2 linked regions of the Homo sapiens genome follow. Each later gene encodes a partner of the first gene's protein in a complex. Each region holds a gene or a part of one and is shown in the gene's direction. Other genes may lie near its edges.

The links. The genes of interacting proteins can lie anywhere in the genome.
Region 2: EXOSC10 (region 1) and DIS3L share a complex: the UniProt entries of both Homo sapiens proteins name them as parts of the RNA exosome complex.

The regions. Positions count from the first base shown.
Region 1 is NC_000001.11:11,096,795-11,103,702, reverse strand, and holds the start of EXOSC10 (exosome complex component 10), read left to right. Parts: upstream 1-3,833; 5' UTR 3,834-3,871; coding exon 3,872-3,982; exon of another isoform or gene 3,983-4,028; intron 4,029-5,546; coding exon 5,547-5,683; intron 5,684-6,908. UniProt on the Homo sapiens protein: Catalytic component of the RNA exosome complex which has 3'->5' exoribonuclease activity and participates in a multitude of cellular RNA processing and degradation events.
Region 2 is NC_000015.10:66,289,537-66,296,567, forward strand, and holds the start of DIS3L (DIS3-like exonuclease 1), read left to right. Parts: upstream 1-4,031; 5' UTR 4,032-4,060; coding exon 4,061-4,199; intron 4,200-4,278; exon of another isoform or gene 4,279-4,550; coding exon of another isoform or gene 4,551-4,638; exon of another isoform or gene 4,639-4,912; intron 4,913-5,451; coding exon 5,452-5,605; intron 5,606-7,031. UniProt on the Homo sapiens protein: Catalytic component of the RNA exosome complex which has 3'->5' exoribonuclease activity and participates in a multitude of cellular RNA processing and degradation events.

The DNA.
Region 1 (6,908 bases):
TAAGTTATATCTAAGCAAAGCCTTCTGGGTGTGTTGAGACAAATTATCAAAGGCAGAGGAGGAGCTAGTGGAGGCCTTTAAATACAGTTTAGTCCAGCCAGGCACGGCAGCTCATGCCCGTAACCCCAACACTTTGAGAAGCTAAGGTGAGAGGATTGCTTGAATCTAGGAGTTTGAGACCAGCCTGGGAAACATAGTGAGACCCTGCCTCTACAAAAAATAAAAAAATTCGTTGGGCATGGTGGCATGGGCCCAGTCTACCCTGGATGCTGAGGCCAGAGGATTGTTTGAGCCCAGGAGTTCAAGCTTACAGTAAGCTATGATTGTGCCACTGCACTCCAGCCTGGATGACAGAGACCCTATCTCTAAAAATAAATACATAAACAAGGATGAAGATCTTTATGATGATCCACTTAATGAATAGTAAATATATTTTCCTTAAAATTTTCGTAATTTATTGTAAGAATACAATACATACACACAATATGTGTCAGTTGACCGTTTGTTATCGGTAAGGCCTTTGGTCAACAGGAGGCTATTAGTTAAGTTTTGGGGGAGTTAAAAGCTATATGTGGATTTTCGACTGCTCAAAGGGATGGGAGCCCCTAATCACCAGATGTTGTTAACAGGTTAACTATTTTTTTCTTTTTTTTTTTTTTTTTTTTTTTTTTTTGGAGACAAGGTCTGGCACTATCACCCGGGCTGGGGGGCAGTGGTGCAATCTCAGCTTACTGCAACCTCCACCTCCCGGGCACGAGTTATCCTCCCACCTCAGCCTCCTGAGTAGCTGGGACTACAGGTGCATGCCATCACACTCGGCTAATTTTTGTATTTTCTGTAGAGACTGATTCTTGCCATGTTGTCCAGGCTGATCTCAAACTGGTGAGCTCAGGCCATCCTCCCACCTCAGCCTCCCAAAGTGCTAAGATTACATGTGTGAGCCACTGCGCCCAGCCAGTTGTATTTTTTAAGAATCAAGGCTGAGGCCGGGCATGGTGGCTTATGCCTATAATCCCAGCACTTTGGGAGGCCGAGGCGGGTGGATCACGAGGTCAGGAGTTTGAGACTAGCCTTGCCCACATGGTGAAACCCCATCTCTTACTTAAAAATGCAAAATTAGCTGGGCGTGGTGGTGCACGCCTGTAATCCCAGCTACTCAGGAGGCTGAGGCAGGAGAATCACTTGAACCCGGGAGGCAGAGGTTGCAGTGAGCCAAGATCATGCCATTGCACTCCAGCCTGGGCAATAGAGTGAGACTTCATCTCAAAAAAAAAAAAAAAAAAGAATCAAGGCTGTAGTGTCAACTTACTAAGTTTCAAATATCAACTGCATCTCATAGTACCTTTGTGACCTTGGATAAGTTACGTAGATTCTCTCTGCTTGTCTCCTCTGAAAGTGTGGGTAAGCCCTACCTTGTGAGGCTGTCTGAAAGACAAGATAATCCATGGAGGAGCATTTAGCACAGCCTGACTGACATGTGGTATTAGGTTGAACCACGTGAAATAGGTCCTCAAAAATACTAAATGAACTAGGCGTTTGTCCTGCCAGAGTACCTGTGTACCTGAAGCACACACACGGAAAAAGTGAAAAGCAAGTATTCTCTTAACTGGATATGCTGAACATTTATTGAAGACTTAATGGGTGGAATGAATTGTATTAAGGGCATCCCATCTCTAATTTCAGGAGAGTGAATCTATCTCTTGAGCTGCCTGATAATTCGGTGCCTCCCTCACAAGAGCTCTTCCAGGAGTTCACTTCACAAATGTGTACTGAGTTCCCACTCTGTGTTAACCAGAATGGTTCCAGCGATGTCTGCAGGAAACAACGTCTGCTTGGAGGAGTTCAGAGGGTACTGGAGGGAGGAAGCACAGTTGGAGCTAGACGCTTTCTTCAGGAGCTTACCTGTAAAGGGCAAGAGAGAGATGATGGCAGTTGGAAGGAGATGTGGGAGCCAGTGTTTTTTCCTTTTCTCTTTTAGTTGGGAAAGATGTCAGTGTACTTGTAGGCTGTTAGGAATGAACCAATAGAGAGGGAAAAGATAGATCCAGGGGGCAGGGGAGGTGTAATTAATTACAGGAGTCAAGACCAAATGGGTGAGGGGAACACAGAACCAGCCAGAGCTTGGGAGGAGGTGACTTTAAATATGAGGCTGGGCCGGGCACAGTGGTTCCTGCCTGTAATCCCAGTGAGGTGGGAGGACGGCTTCAGCCCAGGAGTTCGAGACCAGGTTGGTAAGATGCAGTCTAAAAAAAATAAGCCAGGCGCTGGTGGCGCACACCTGTAATCCCAGCACTTCGGGAGGCCAAAGCAGGTGGATCACTTGAGGTCAGGAGTTCAAGACCAGCCTGGCCAACATGGTGAAACCCCATCTCTACTAAAAATACAAAAAAAAAAAAAAAATTAGCCGGGCATTGTGGCACACGCCTGTAATCCCAGCTACTTGAACCTAGGAAGCGGAGGTTGCAGTGAGCTGAGATTGCACCACTGCACTCCAGCCTGGGCAGCAGAGTGAGACTCTGTCTCAAAAAAAAAAAATAAACAGGGCAGGCACGGTGGCTCCGCCTGTAATCCCAGCACTCTGGGAGGTCGAGGCGGGAGGATCACAAGGTGAGGAGTTCGAGACCAGCCTGGCCAATATGGTGAAACCCCGTTTCTACTAAAAATACGAAAAAAATTAGCCGAGCGTGGTGGTGCACGCCTGTAATCCCAGCTACTCGGGAGGCTGAGGCAAGAGAATTCGTTGAACCCGGGAGGCGGGAGGTTGCAGTGAGCCAAGATTGCGTCACTGCACTCCAGCCTGGGCAACAGAGTGAGACTCCATCTCAAAAAAAATAAAAATAAAAATAGGCTGCACGCTGATGACTCGTATCTGTAATCCCAGCACTTTGGGAGAGCAAGAGTGAAACTTTGTCCCAAAAACATGGTTTTTTTTGTTTGTTTGTGACAAGGTCTCACTCTGTTGCCCAGGCTGGAATGCAGTGGTTCGATCTCGGCTCACTGTAACCTCCACCTCCCGGGCTCAAGCCTCAGCCTCCCGAGTAGCTGGGATTACAGGCATGTGCCACCACGCCCGACTAATTTTTGTGTTTTTAGTATAGACAGAGTTTCACCATGTTGGCCAGGCTGGTCTCCAACTCCCGACCTCAGGTGATCCACCCGCCTCGGCCTCCTAAAGTGCTGGGATTACAGGTGTGAGTCACGGCGCCCAGCCTCAAAAACATAACCTTAAAAAGAAATTTTTGAGACAGGGTTTCATCCTGTCACCCCGGCTGGAGTGCAGTGGAGCCTCCACCTCCTCGGCTCAAGCAACCATCCCACCTCAGCCTCCCGAGCAGCTGGGACTACAGATGCGCACCACCACTCCCGGTAATCCCGGTTTGTTTGTTTTTTAAATTTTTAAATAAACACGAGGATAAGCGGGGATCGTGGCCCTCGCCTGGGGTCCCTGCTACTTCGCAGGCTAAGGTGGGAGGATCTCTTGAGCCCAAGAGTTCGAAACCAGATTGGGCAAACCTCGTGTCAAAAATATATGTGATAGTCAGGTCCTCCAGGCCGCACCCTAGATCACAGGGTTGTTGGGATGATACAATATGAGGTAAAAGAACGTGAAATTCACACCAGAGCGCTCGAAAGTGCCACCCTAATCGCAGGCTTCCCAACCTAATCGCAGGCTTCCCAACCTAATCGCAGGTGCCCCACCCTAAACGCAGGCTTCCCAACCTAATCGCAGGCGCCCCACCCCAATCGCAGGCTCCCCACACTATAATCAGACGCCCCGCCCGCCGCTTCGACCTGGCGCATGCGTGGTGCGCACGCGTCCCGTCTCCTCGGCCGACAAGCTCTCGCGAGACGAGCCGTGCAGGCTGAAAAAATGGCGCCACCCAGTACCCGGGAGCCCAGGGTCCTGTCGGCGACCAGCGCAACCAAATCCGACGGAGAGATGGTGCTGCCAGGCTTCCCGGACGCCGACAGCTTTGTGAAGGTGAGTTCGCGGGGCCTCGGGGGTACCAGGAGTCGCCCGCGGCCGCCGGAAGCCGACTGGGCCCTCTGGGCAGCCAATGCCCGCCCGCCGTAGTGGAGCCCGAGCGAGGGTCGCGGGGCCCCTGTCCGCGCTGGGCGCAGACTCTCCTGCACCCTCCGGGGATGGGGCCTCGGAAACGGACACTGAGGGGCGTCCCGCTTGCGAGCCTAAGTCCATGGAGGCCCAAATGTGGAAAGCCGTCTCGCATCCTGGGAAAGGCTTCCTTGCCACCCAGACGTCCCTAGCCCTTGCGACGTCGCGCTCGCCACGCCCTAGCCACCCGACCAGCTCTCCGCAGGGGCTCGGCTTCTTCGCGCTCCCCACACTTGCCTGGAGTTGTCTCCTCCCGCGGCCAGTATGGCCCTTCTCTTCCTCTGTTTCTGAAGTCCAGTCCTACATAATTTTTAACCCTGAGTTAAATGTCACCTGTTAAAGCCCCATTGCACGTTTATTAGTAACTCCTGGAAGGTATACAGGGCGTTCACTTAAGATCTTTGTATAACTTAGCTTAAATATGAGCAAACGTACAACTAGGCTTAAGGTGTGCATAGCTCTTACAAAGCAATGAAACTAAAATAATTTGTAAATTAACCCTATAAATTTACAGAAATTCCACTAACGTTGTATCTTATCTAATTTGCTGTTAGCTAATGCTATTGATTCATTAACATGGCTCTCAATAGTTCCTGGACCACTAACTGTGGTCCTGGTTGTGTGGCGGTCATGCTCATAAGCTACCATGTTCCCCTCCGTGACTTAATTTCCCACCTCCTTTCTCTGCTTTTTTCTTGGGAAATGTTTATTCACAAAACTCACAATGACGTTTTAGGCCTTCACATGATCAGCCATCATTTATGTCACTTCACGGCTTTTTTTCGTTACCTCACAACAGTTAAAATAGAGAACCACTTGACACTAACTGAACAATAAACACAAATCCAGTTTTAGATAGTAGCTGTTATAAATTTGTCGTCCAAGGATCTAGGATAAGCTTGTATTGTTTTTAGATGCTCATCCAGATGAAAACACAAAAACAAATTCCTGTAGAAAGCTCTTGGATCTGAACTTGAGTCGTAATAATAACGCTTATGTGCCAAGAACTGTCCTAAGTGCTTTTATTAGCTTATTCATTCTGTCCTCACAAAAACTCTGTGGTGCAGGCCCTTTTTATTTTTCCTGTTTCTCAGAGGAGAACACTAAAGTCCAAATAAAGCAATCACTTGTCCAAGATCTCAGTTAATACGTAGCAGAGTCAAGATTCAACCCCAGGTATTTGTGAATATTAATCAGATTATATACGTATGTATTCTGTCTCTCAACTCTCCCAAGAATATAAGCTCCAAACTTGGTTTCCTGTTCAGTATTGTATTCTCAGGGCCTAGATTAGATTGGGGTTTGGCACTAAATGAGTGCTTTTTTTGATGGATGAAGAGTAGATACCTTGTATACGATAGATCAAAAAAATGACATACCAAATGAATGGGGATCCCTGTGTAAACATGCCATCTTTTCTTGTTTTTGACAGTTTGCTCTTGGGTCCGTGGTGGCAGTCACCAAGGCATCTGGGGGCCTACCACAGTTTGGCGATGAGTATGATTTTTACCGAAGTTTTCCTGGCTTCCAAGCATTTTGCGAAACACAGGGAGACAGGTTGCTTCAGTGGTAAGTACTGTACTTTGTTTTCTTGTGTTAGTGAAAAGAAATGAAAACAAAGAAGTAGATAAATTTTTCCTGAAATTTATTTTTCCTTAAACATTTTCTGTGGTATGAAGAGCTATAAAATGTGAAAATTGAAGCAATGGATTTTGATTAGGGAAATATTACTTGGTATATTTTTAGTTTAGCCTTTAAAAAATGTATTGACTTTTGTACTGAAAAAATATATTGACTTTTGTACAAATCTTTTTTAATTAAATGGGACGTGAACACTTAGAGCCAAGATTCTTTTTTTTTTTTGAGACGGAGTCTCGCTCTATTGCCCAGGCTGGAGTGCGGTGGCATGATCTCGGCTCACTGCAAGCTCCGCCTCCCAGGTTCACGCTATTCTCCTGCCTCAGCCTCCTGAGTAGCTGGGACTACAGGTGCCCGTCAACACGCCCAGCTAATTTTTTGTATTTTTAGTAGAGACAGGGTTTCAACATGTTAGCCAGGATGGTCTCGATCTCCTGACCTCGTGATCCACCTGCCTCGGCCTCCCAAAGTGCTGGGATTACAGGCGTGAGCCACCGCGCCTTGCCAGATCCAAGATTCTTTCCCACAACTTGTAGAGTAGCAGGTATTTTTATTTTTATTTTTATTTTTTTTGAGATGGAGTCTCGCTCCATCACCCAGGCTGGAGTGCATTGGCTCAATCTCGGCTCACTGCAACCTGCGCCTCCCAGGTTCAAGCGATTCTCCTGCCTCAGCCTCCCGAGTAGCTGGGATTATAGGTGTACACCACCACGACCAGCTTTTTTTTTTTTGTTGGGGGGGAGTACGGAGTCTTGCTCTGTCGCCCAGGCTGAAGTGCAGTGGCGTGATCTCGGCTCGCAGCAACCTCCACCTCCCAAGATCAAGCGATTCTTGTGCCTCAGCCTCCCCAGTAGCTGGGATAACAGGCATGTACGACCATTCCCGGCTAATTTTTGTATTTTTAGTAGAGGAGGTTTCACCATGTTGGCCAGGCTGGTCTCGAACTCCTGACCTTGTGATCCACCCACCTCAGCCTCCCATAGTGTTGGGATTACAGGTATAAGCCACTGCGCCTAGCCAGTTTTTTGTATTTTTAGTAGAGATGGGGTTTCACCATGTTGGCCAGGCTGGTCTCGAAGTCGTGACCACTCCTGAAGTGCTAGGATTACAGGTGTGAGCCACTGCGCCCAGCTAGGGTGCAAGTTTTATTGGTTTC
Region 2 (7,031 bases), on another chromosome or scaffold:
AAGTGAGGCTCTGTCTCAAAAAAAAAAAAAGAAAAAAAAAAACAAAAGAAAAAAGAAAACTGTAGCAGCTTCATGAGGACATTTAATATCTAGTGAAGGATTTTGGAACAAATAGCCCTACACAACTCTTGGACAAGTTCCTTAATCTCCTTTATAAAGAGAGTAATTAGTTAGGGTGATGATAGGTGCGGTAACAAGTTTATTTCTCCCTTACAAGAGTCCACTGTGGGCCAGGCGCGGTGGGTCACGCCTGTAATCCCAACACTTTGGGAAGCCGAGGCAGGCGGGATCATCTGAGGTCAGGAGTTCGAGACCAGCCCGGCCAACATGGTGAAACTTCATCTCTACTAAAAACACAAAAATTAGCTGGGCATGGTGGCTTGCGCCTGTAGTCCCAGCAACTCGGGAGGCTGAGGCAAGACAGTCGCTTGAACCCAGGAGGCAGAGGTTGCTGTGAGCCAAGATTGCACCACTGCACTCCAGCTTGGGCCACTCCGTCTCAAAAAAAAAAGAGAGAGAATCCACTGTGGATGCTCCTGGGTCAAAGGCAGCAGCACTCTGCTGTGAACAGTCCTTCAGGGACCCAAGTTGATGAGGGGCCTGCCATCTCTAATGCTGGCTCTCAAAATCCCCTGGGCATTGGTCTCCCGCTGGTAGAACAGGAAAAGGAGCATGCATGGGAGGTTTTTATGGGCCAGGCTTGGAAATGGTGCCATTATATTCCGCCAACTAGAACTCAGTCACATGGCCACACCTGTGTATCTGCAAGGCAAGCTGGGAAATGTCATTTATCTCTGTGCCCAGAGAAAAAGAGGGCATGGATTTGGCAAACAGAGAGCCAGAACCAGTCTCTGCCACAAGAAATCACATATTTACACTGAAGAGTTGTGATAAAGATTAGAGATAATGTGGTGATATATCCTTGGCCTACGGGGTCATGGAGTTTGGGAAAGACACATCAAATATGAAAAGAGGAGAGCAGTAGAATGCCCAAGCAGAGACCAGATAGTGGGCTGAGCTGAAGTAGTCACAAGCAACAAAGGTTAAGGTGCTGGCAGAGCAGACTGATTCATTTAGGGATAAGGGATTTGAGCTAGGTCACTCAGGTAGTCACTGATGCTGTTCACCAAAGGGCTTCAGTGCTCTGCCCTTCAGGTCATGAGGTGGCACACACTTCCTGCCCCACCCACCCCTATTGTGTGGTCAATAGGCAGAATTGAAATGTGTCACTTCTGGACTGAGCTTTTAATTGCTGGGATGAGACTCTCTGGGGGACTTTTTTCCTTTGCCAATGACCACAGTCTGTGTTCCAGAGAGGGCCTGCTCTATCAGCCTGGGTCCTGGAAAAGGGCACAGAGCAGAGCCTCTTGGTGCCTAGGCAACATCTTGTCATTTTAAGTCACTGAGATTTTTTTGTTTGTTTTTTTGAGACGGAGTTTTGCTCTTGTTGCCCAGGCTGGAGTGCAATGGCACGATCTTGGCTCACTGCAACCTCCACCTCCCAAGTTCAAGAGATTCTCCTGCCTCAGCCTCCCGAGTAGCTGGGATTACAGGCATGTGCCACCATGCCCGGCTAATTTTTGTATTTTTAGTAGAGACAAGGTTTCTCCATGTTGGTCAGGCTGGTCTCGAACTCCTGACCTCAGGTGATCTGCCCTCCTAGGCCTCCCAAAGTGCTGGGATTACAGGCGTGAGCCACCGCACCTGGCCAAGTCACTGAGATTTTTAAAGTTGCATATTACCACAGCATAAACTGGCTTATTCTTACAAGTATAGACACTTTTTTTCAGGCAAGAGGCATCAGATGGCCTGTGAGGCAAACCAACCAACCAACCAACCAACCAACCAACAAAAAGGCACTCTTGTCCATTTTAGCTCATTAGTTCCAAGAATTAAGGAATCATGCTTTTTAAAACATAATTTATACATTATCGCCAAAATGCAAGCAAAAGAAGTGCTTAATGGACCTTGAATTATTTAAAATACTAATAAAGCCAACTTTCAATAGAACTCCAGACACACTCTCTTCCTTAAAAGATCATTTGACCCAATTTGAAGAAAGTTTAAAGCTACCAAGTGCTAAAAAGCGATGTCATGGGCATATTAGTATCTAATCAACACCCCCCCCCCCCCATAACCTGGTATAATCAGAAATAAAAGAAAAATGAACGTGAGGGAGCTTTGAAGGGAACTGTGGTCAGCTGCCTGGAACATATTTATGTAGGGGACAAATCTGGCAACTTGACTGTCCTCTGGGCTGTCCAGAACTGACCTCCTGAATTAGGGACAGCCTCCTGCACTGCTGGTTGCCTTACAGGCCAGCTCTGTGCTGTTTTCCTAATTCGTGCAATTCCACCTCAGATCTCATTCACATCAGCTCACACTGCAGGGTAACTTGACATGGAAGTACAATGAGTGGGAGATCGTGGCTCTCTTTCATGCATTCCTGTAGAGTGACAAGAGCCATCCAACAGAGCATCCTCAGTTCTGCCTGCTTCAGCATCACAGGAAGTCTGATGTTTCCAGCCAGCTGGTTGAGCTGCCTTAACTGGAGCTCACCAAGCAGACTATAAAGTCTCTAAATGCAGGACCTGTATTTTACTCATCTCTGAATAGCACGGTAATTACTTCTGAGCCTCCTTGGAATTCAGTCAGATTCTGGCTTGAATATTGATCCCACCACTTAATAACTGGGTAACCTTGGCCACTTAACTTCCCTAACCCTGTTTTATAGTCTATAAGATAGGAATGATAATGCCCCACTCCTTTGACTTGTTGTGGAAATTAAATGGGACACGTATACAAAGCTGCTAGTGCAGCTCAAAAGTCTTAGTTGAGTGCTTGGAAGAAGAGTGGATTCTATCCCATCAAGGGTGTGTGATCTCAGAAGAGACTGTGTGCATCTCTTTATCAAGAGCTACAGGCTGGGCGTGGTGGCTTACGCCTGTAATCCCAGCACTTTGGGAGGCTGAGGTGGGAGAATCACTTGAGCCCAGGAGTTTGAGACCAGCCTGGGTAACATAGTGAGACACTCCCATCTCTACAAAAAAAAAGAAAAGAAAAGAAAAGAAAAAAACGCTAGGCGTGGTGGAGAAGATCGTTTGTGCCCAGAAGTTCGGGGGCTGCAGTGAGCCATGATCATGCACTATACTCCAGCATGAGTGACACAGCAAGACCCTGTCCAAAAAAAAAAAAAAAATTAATACAAACATGTACGTTTGTGATTGTGTCACAGTGGCAGTTTAAAGGAGAAATCCTTTGCCAGAGGCTGCAAAAGCTATAAAAGTTGGAGTGGAACAGTGCTTCAAGGGAAGAGATTGGTTTTCATTTTATCTGCATTGTTTGATTATATAAGTACATGATAACTTCAATAGGGATACCAAAACAAATAAATAAATTTTAAAAAGAACATGAAAGGCCAGGCGCAGCAGCTCACACCTATAATCCCAACACTTTGGGAGGCCGAAGCAGGTGGATCGCCTGAGACCAGCCGGGCCAACAGAGCAAGACCTGCCCCCCTCACCCTCCCATCTCTACAAAAAAAGAAAAAAACTTTAAAAAAAGTACATGTAATTTTAAATGAATATAACTTTTTAGAAATGTTCGGCTGGCAGGGTTGCCGGCTTATGTGCTGAGTCTTTTACCTCGTTTGGAGATAGCGAGAGCAACGAAGAGAAAACATTAATTACCCGGTATTAGTATTAATACGGCGGCTCCATTCCCACATGGACCTGGGGGGGACAAACAAAGTCTCCTAATCTTGGACAGCTGCGCCCAGCCCTTCTTCACCTGCCGTCCAGGTATCATCCTAGTCTTCCCTCCGTCTCTGGGGTAGGTCGTTTCCACCCCTCCGCCCTGGTCCAGGCCACTGAGGGAAGGGAAGAAACTAAGGCCGGGAGGGCCGGGCCCCAGCCTGGAGCGTGTAGCTCCGGGCCTCCCCCGGGCGCGGCAGTTACGGCGGTTCCGGAGCCGCGGCGCCTAGGGCCGAGGGGCGGGTCCGAGGCCGCGGCCTTGCCTCCGCCGCGCCCGCCACTCCGCGGCCGCCGGGAGACACGCCGCCATGCTGCAGAAGCGGGAGAAGGTGCTGCTGCTGAGGACCTTCCAGGGCCGCACGCTGCGGATCGTGCGCGAGCACTACCTGCGGCCCTGCGTGCCCTGCCACAGCCCGCTCTGCCCGCAGCCCGCCGCCTGCAGCCACGGTCAGGGCCGGGGCGGGGGCGGGGACGGGGCCGGCGGGAGCGGGCGGCCGCAGTGAGGGGCTGAGCGCGGCCGGGAGGCGGAGCGCCAGCGGCGGGGACACGGAGGCGTAGGCCCCGCGGCCTGCGCCCGCTCGCCGGCCTCACCCCCCGGCTCTCTGCCGGTGGGGACCCAGCGGCCCGGGTCCGCGGCTTCTGGGGCGCCCGGGACTCCCTTACTGCTCCGCCCTGTCCAATGGGAGGGCCCGACAGACCCGCACCCCATGCCGGAGGCCGGGTGGTTTGGCTCCTCAGAGGGGCCTGAGGGCGCGGAAGCCGAGGCCTCCTCCCGCCGCAACCTCGCGCCGTGGAGAAATGGGGAGGTCCCGAGCTGGGAGCCCCCGGGAGCTACAGGCCAGCTGCTGCCGCTGCGAAGCTGACATCGCCTGCTTTGCAGCCACAGGTTTCCTGACCTGCCCGCACTGTTGCCCCAGACTTTTCCCCCAGTGGAGAGCCACTTCACCGTAGATTTGTGAACTCTCTGGGCCCGCACTGGAGCGGAAGGTCACGGGGAAGTTGGACTGGGGACTCCTGGGCCCCAGTCCTTGGTTTCTAGGCCACAAGGGTGGCCGATAGAACGATGCACGTTACTGGCTCTCTTCCCCCATGGGAGGATGAGAATGGGCTGGGGGTCCTTGTCAGCGAATGTGTGGAATCCTCCAAACATTGTGATTAAGGTGAACATTTCAGTTAGAGCTTGGCTAACCAGCTCTCAGATGCAGGTCTGGTGGGAAACCTCACCTCTGCACGTTGCTTGCACGGAGCATTTTCTCTGTTCAATCTTTCTGGCCCTTGGAGGCTGCTGAGCACGTGCAGAAGCTTGACACAGAGCCAACTTTAAATTGCTGGGCATCATACACAAGTGGTATAAATGTGGGGGTGCTTCATTTGAATGTGTTTGTCAATGATGAGTTAACACTGAAATATTCAGGTTATGCTGAAAATGTGCTTGTTCGTTGTTAAATCAGCCATCCTCTCCGGCACCTCTGGCAACACCATAAACCACGTTGAGCTTGTATTTATCACAGCTTCCAAAAAAATGAGGGTGCTCAATATACCTGAACTTTGGGCCTCTACCAAAGTAGATTTGTCTTTTAAAAACTCCCACCATGGAGTTAAGACTGGAAGTTATTTTGCATGCCAGAGCACCGTGACATTTAAATAAACCAGGTTTGAAAACATTGTCTAATCTCTTACATTTTGAATTATGTTTCAGATGGGAAACTCTTGTCTAGTGATGTGACTCATTACGTGATCCCAGACTGGAAAGTTGTTCAAGATTATCTTGAGATCCTTGAGTTTCCTGAGTTGAAGGGAATTATTTTCATGCAGACAGCTTGTCAAGCTGTGCAGCATCAAAGAGGCAGGAGGTATACGTTTTGCATTCTTTATTTCTATATGGCATAGGTTCCCCCCACCTTAGAAAAGGTCCCTTGTCGGAGGGGGATGGGAGGAATTCATTATTTTGTCAGAAGGGACTTTTAAAACTAATTTCGTATTCTCTTTGATAGTGAGGAATGCAGTAACATTATTTTATATTTCTGCTTCAACACCTGGCCAAGAGATCTGACTGTAGATTAGTAAACTGCAGTGTCCCCAGTATGTGGGTATTTAAGATTCTAGTGTGAATTGTCTTTTGGCTTGCATTTTTATAGTGGCAGGGTTATTGCTTATTTCTTGTTGATAATGTGTATTATTTAATCTTATTTATAGATACATTGTTTCAGAAGCATACGTTCTTTTCTTGGGGAAAAGAGTACTTTATTTTTAAATTTTAGACTCTTTTATTGGGGATGCAAATTGTACTTGTAATGATTTATTCAATGAAACCAGAAATAGCTTGTTTTATTTTTAGATTACTAGTGTAACTACCAGCCATAGTCATTGTATTTGCTAAACAAAGGCTTTCTAATTGAACAAGTCTAAAATTCTTGCCTAGTACTTAAATGAAGAATAGCTGTCTACCTTTTAAACAAATACTTTGAAAAACGATTTTGCTTCCTTTAATGTTGGGAAAGGTTTATGACTTGAACTTAAAACTGTATGGAAATAGCATATTAGAATTATACGTCCAACCTTTTAACACTCTAAGTTATTTAATAAGCACCAACTATGCATTTATTCTTTTTTAAAATGTTGTGGTTTCTTCAGGCCTTAGTGATAAAAGATGAAGTGTTTTTATTTGTATATGAAAATGGCAAAAAATTGTCCTCTTATTATATGCTCAGTTCAAAAAACATACATTAACCAGATTGTGTGCAGGTTTTTTCAGATAGAATATTTTTAAATGATCTTCAAGTTGATTTTGTTCAGACACCAAGATATAGATGTTTATACACATCCAAATTTAAATGCTGCTCCAGGTGTCATATTTCAGTTTCTGCTACTAAAATCAATTTGTTGTTATCATTCAGATTGCTAACACACTGCGAGCCTTTTCAACTTCTGTTTTCTGAAATATTTTTAATGTTAAGGATTGTTTTAGAAACCAGTTCCTGGGACATTCAAAGACAAAGAGTTGGAATTTAAACGTTTTTTTCTCCTGAACATTTCAAGAGTAGTTAACTTGATGAAAAACTATTGGTTTTCCACTGCCTTACCATGTCTTTGAATATACTAAATGTGAAAACAAAAGATGAGGAGTTATGAAATAGGGCCATATGATAACACCCTGATTTTGTTCGTTGGGTAAGCACTTTTTAAGCTCTTAGTTCCAGGCCTTGGGGAATAAAAAAGAAGTCTTTTTTTTTTTTTTTTTTCCTTGAGATGGAGTCTGGCTCTGTCGCCCAGGCTAGA